Linked DNA regions of Homo sapiens: region 1 is linked to region 2. A link means that fine-mapping ties the variant in region 2 to the expression of a gene that starts in the linked region. Tissue or cell type: whole blood. Region 2 holds a variant in brackets; the other region holds the start of a gene. All regions are shown on one strand. Distances are from middle to middle.

What was found. PIP is the estimated chance that this variant, and not a neighbour inherited with it, causes the effect.
Region 1: it holds the start of TEK, and the variant in region 2 is fine-mapped to the expression of TEK in whole blood (INTERVAL, PIP above 0.99).

What each region holds. Positions count from the first base shown.
Region 1 is chr9:27,107,876-27,110,643 of GRCh38, forward strand. TEK (TEK receptor tyrosine kinase) reads left to right here and starts at 1,350. Exons shown (of 23, transcript NM_000459.5): 1 at 1,350-1,767. The coding sequence starts at 1,716.
Region 2 is chr9:27,209,076-27,211,843 of GRCh38, forward strand. TEK (TEK receptor tyrosine kinase) reads left to right here. Exons shown (of 23, transcript NM_000459.5): 16 at 46-156. It also overlaps the pseudogene RPL36AP34. Among named protein-coding and RNA genes, the nearest start is that of EQTN, 87 kb to the right of the region's middle. The variant A/G (reference allele first, on the strand shown) is at 1,152.

The sequences.
Region 1 (2,768 bases), 100 kb before region 2:
CTCAGGTGATCCACTCCCAAAGTGCTGGGATTATAGGCGTGAGCCACTGTGCCAGGCCCACTGTTTTTGTTTTTTTTTTTCGTGATGACAAATTTAAAGTCATCTCATAGGAATAGAAAATAGCTTTTTAGTAGAAGCTCTTGGAATTTAAATTGAGACTGAATGGAAAGATGAAAGAAAATAAACTTATTAACATTTAATGAGAACCTTCAAAGAACTAGGCATAGTACCAAATGGTTTTATATTTTTAAACCTCATTTATTCCTCTCAAAACACCTGGGAAGGAGATATTTTTGCCATTTCACAGCTGTTGAAACTGAGGCTCAAAAAGACTAAGTAACTTTTCTCAGCTACACATGTGGCTGAGCCAGTATTTGAACCCAGTTCTGTTTGCAGACAGAACCTGGGCTTTTTCACACCTGCAAACTGGAAACATTAATTGGTTCTTAAGATCATCATCGATGTGATAAAACCTGGGACAGAAATTAGTCAAGACTAGCTGCATCTGCCTTTTCCTCTGGTGGGTAGGAAAAGGAGGAGTATAATGATTTCCTCAGGCATGAAGGTCGATGATGAGCAAAGTGTATACTCTCTAATCTAATGTCATAATTCATATTGTGGAGTAATTATCTGGATAAGTGTAGGGTCTCTGACCTCATTCTAGATATTGTACATTCCATGGCTATTTTCATTTTGGTCCATGAACTCTCTTTGCTCTCATGAGCACCATTTTTATCCCAATCTAATCCTGTATGTTTGTGTTTTTACACAGATTAGTTTTTAAATGTTATATATAATTTGCTTCTGAAACACCATTGCTCAATGACTACCAAATCTTTCTCATTACCAAAATCCTTCTATGCCAACTTCTTCAAGAAATTTGATCACCTTTAGATGAATTGTTAATGAAAATTAAAGCTATAGCCGGCAACATGGGTATCTTTGGGCTAATGGCCAACCAACAGGCCATCTGTGTGAAAGAAAACAGGCTAACAATTTTGGACTCTGGTCTCTTGGGGCTACATTGAGCATTGACCTCACCGGTGCTCACTGAAATTAATTGCTTTTCAGGTTGTATTTTCTCATCACGGAAACCTTCTTCTCCCAATTCAAACCATGTGGGTTAAAATGAGAAAACAAAAGCCAAAACGGCTTCCCACACCCAAAAGCTCCTTCTGTCAGAGATCCCAGTAGCCCCGGGAGAGCTGTTAGAAGTCTGAGAAGGATTGGTCATCATCGCATACCATACATAGGTGGAGGGCTTGTTATTCTCAGTTTCCCGCCTATGAGAGGATACCCCTATTGTTTCTGAAAATGCTGACCGGGACCCACACTTCCAACAAAAATTCCTCTGCCCCTACAGCAGCAGCAAAAGCAGCAGCAGAAGCAACAGCAACAGATAAGTGTTTTGATGAATTGCGAGATGGATAGGGCTTGAGTGCCCCCAGCCCTGCTGATACCAAATGCCTTTAAGATACAGCCTTTCCCATCCTAATCTACAAAGGAAACAGGAAAAAGGAACTTAAAACTCCCTGTGCTCAGACAGAAATGAGACTGTTACAGCCTGCTTCTGTGCTGTTCCTTCTTGCCTCTAACTTGTAAACAAGACGTAGTAGGACGATGCTAATGGAAAGTCACAAACCGCTGGGTTTTTGAAAGGATCCTTGGGACCTCATGCACATTTGTGGAAACTGGATGGAGAGATTTGGGGAAGCATGGACTCTTTAGCCAGCTTAGTTCTCTGTGGAGTCAGCTTGCTCCTTTCTGGTAAGGTTTGGCTTTATTTTTTTTAATTTAGTATTTTAAAAAACAGAGTTAGTGATTTCTGGGTGCTCTCCCCAAATCTCATCAGTGCTGATGAACAAGGGGTGGCTGTAGCAAAGGCACCATTTCTCTGTGAGTCTCCAGTCAATATGTGTGGAAGGATTGAAATGCAAAGGCTCTGTGGCATGAACTGATTTTGCTAGTTTGTCTTCTGGGTGATTGGCCCCTGTGTTAGAAACTCTTTGAGGACCGATTAAATCATCTTATTTGAAGAGATCCCCTTACTATCATGCATTATTTTCCTGCTCCTCATTCTGGAGTGTTTTTCTTATTGATTTTTTTTTTAAAGAACAAACCGGTTTTACCTGCTTTAAAGAAAATCTTCAGTAAAAAATGAAATTCATGCTGAGAAATACAGGGGCCCAATTAAGGCAGTGTATAGATTGTCACTGTTAAAAGGGAACAAAGATGCTTTTCTGTAAAAAGATTTTATATCTACATCCTATTTTAAGCAAAGCAATGAAATTGTAGGCTTTTTTTTTTTTCTTGTAGTTAGGGTCAGGGAGATTGGGGCTATTAGAATTTTTGTTTTATTTTAAAAAATGTTTGCCATGTAGTAATTCATAAAGGGTTTACTGGCCCAATGAAACAAAAATTTAGGCAGTTACCAAAATCTTTAACACAGGAGAGTATATGAAGCCTGTTGTAGAGTGAAGGAGTGGTTGGCCAGTGTGTTGGGTTCAGCGTGTTTATTGCTTAGATACTCCAGATAGTGGTGTGCCTCTGTAGCTCACTCAGCCTATGTGACATAGGTAGAAGGCAGTATCCAAACCTGAACTACATATCACAAATACATTTATCATTGCCATCAGTCTCTCCCCTTCGGTTTGAAAACATTCTAATTTTAATAACGAAAATCGAATTGATATTGGAGATGAATTTGGGAAAATTCACTAAACTTCATGGATATAGGGCATATTAATATAATTTGATTCGAGTATACA
Region 2 (2,768 bases):
AAAGGTGTAACAAAGAAGAATCACAACCCTTGACTTTCTTCCCAGAATATGCCTCCAAAGATGATCACAGGGACTTTGCAGGAGAACTGGAAGTTCTTTGTAAACTTGGACACCATCCAAACATCATCAATCTCTTAGGAGCATGTGAACATCGAGGTAAGATGCTCTTTTCCTGTCTTTCCTGCCAGAGTTTTTATAAAACAGACAAATTCCATATGGATATAAGGAAAGATAATGATCTTAAGAATGTTGCCTATTTTTTTTAAAGTTGCATCTTCTATCTGAATGTCTGTCTAGTCCCATTTATAGACTGTGCTGTGGTTTGCCTTGTTTTTGGAGGGAGGTGCCGAGGCTGGACTATTTAGCCTCTGATGTGGTTCAGCCATTACTGCCCAAAGGTATTCATGGCTCCTACCTGCCCCATCCTTGGCCATGCAGAGGTTTTCTCCACTACCACTACTATTATAGTAGGGGAGCCCCCACCATCAGCTTCTTAATTGCCTACCTTTACATTTTTCCTGGAAACCCAGGGAATTGGTATTCTGAATGTTAAAAGCCATGAATGCCAGCAATCTAGTGTAATATGAAAACTAAGGATGGTTGGATTTTAAAAATAATTATAAGAAGCTTTCATGCGATAGTGCTTTGTTTTTATCCAGAATGCTTTCATGTACAATTACAATGGAGCTTTACAACTATCCTGTGTTGCACATGCATTTAAAGTTAAATTTATGTTATTAATTCAAATGTTTATTGAGTACTTTCTACTGTAATGCATGTAATTACTGGTGAGTGAGTAGGTAACAACAAAAATCCTCTATGGGTTTACCTCTGCATGCAGCATGGCCTTGTAGTTCTGAATCTCTGCTTAAACTTCACTTCTCGTGGAAAAGTTTGCTCCCACAAAAAGCTCCATGCAGTAATTATTTACAAACTTGACAGCCTCTTGTTGACTTTGCAGCACAAACACCAACAATAGAAAAGAGACTACTTCCATTTCCTCAATTTATTAAACTAAAAATACTGGTGCTTCAAACAATTTATCATTCTATGATCCAATAAGGGTGTAATTCTGAAAGCCAGATCATGTCCCTTAGGTTAAATAATGAAGTAATGACATTTATTTTTTGAGCTACTTCCTGAAAACAGTA[A/G]TGAGCATGGCACAGGAGTGTAAATGAAAGTTACACACACACACACATACCACACACACACACACACCCTGCTGTCCTTGCTGATAGCACTCCCACAAACATGGTGAGTGTTCTTAAAACCCGCCTGACTTTCTGTACAAACCCTACAAATGACACAGTACAAAAGGGCAAGGATTCTCTGGATGCCCAGGGAAAGTGGTGTTATGACAGGAAGCCAAGTGGCCGTGGTGGACAGACTAAACCAGTTTTCTGGAAAAAGGCTAAAACTACAAAGAAGACTGTGCTGAGGCTTTAGTGTTGACCCCACTGCAGATCTAAGAGAATGCTGGCTCTTAAGGGATCCAGGCACTTTGCACTAGGAGGAGATAAGAAGAGAAATGGCCAGTTGATCCAGTTCTAAGTTTCAGCTTTTGTTTTATTCTGAGGACAATAAAATCTTGAGGTTACGTTTACTTCATCTGGTTGCAGTTGGTCTTTAGGGAGAGAATAAACCATGATATTAATGCAGCTTCCTTCTTGGGAAAAAAAACCACAACAACAAAAATATATCCCTTAAAATTTTGCTTCGTCATCACATTAGCACATAGCTGGCTCTTAAAATTTTAAGATAGGCCGGGCGTGGTGGCTCACGCCTATAATCCCAGCACTTTGGGAGGCCGAGGCAGGCAGATCACAAGGTCAAGATGTCGAGACCATCCTGGCCAACCAACATGGTGAAACCCTGTCTCTACTAAAAATACAAAAAATTAACTGGGCCTAGTGGCGCATGCCTGTAGTCCCAGCTACTCGGGATGCTGAGGCAGGAGAATCGCTTGAACCTGGGAGGCGGAGGTTGCAGTGAGCCGAGATCGCACCACTGCACTTCAGCCCAGGCGACAGAGAGAGACTCAGTTTAAAAAAAAATATATATATATATGAATATATATGTATGAATATATGTATGTGTATATATATATATGAATATATGTATATATATGAATATATGTGTATATATATGAATATATGTGCATATATATGTATTTAAGGTAAATTACCTTTATCTTTATTAATAAATACATATTTAAATTATTTTAAAATAATTCAGTAAAGATGTGAGAAAGCACATGTATACCATAATTTAGGTCTAACTTTCATTATAGTGCAACAGGTTTCAATATTACTTTTCTTTTTTGCTAGAATTTCAATTTCTTAGAAGATCTTTCAAGCTTTTTTTTTTTTTTTTTTTTTTGAGATAGATAGATAGATAGATAGGGTCTCACTCTGTTGCCCAGTCTGGAGTGCAGTAGCACGATGTCAGCCCACTGCAACCTCCCCATCCCTGGGCTCAAGCAGTCTTCCCACTTCAGCCTAAGTACTCCCAAGTAGCTGGGACTACAGGGATGCACCACCATGCTTGGCTAATTTTTATTTTATTTTTATTTTTTGTAGAGATTAGGTCTCAGTATACTGCCCAAGCTGGTCTCAAACTCCTGGGCTCAAGCAATCCATCTGCCTTGGCCTCCCAGAGTGCCGGGATTACAAGTGTGAGCCACTGCACTGGGCTTCAAGTTCTAATTCATACATCATTTTAAAAACATGGTTTGCCCAAAAAATTCTTCTTTAAAAAAAACCAGTAAA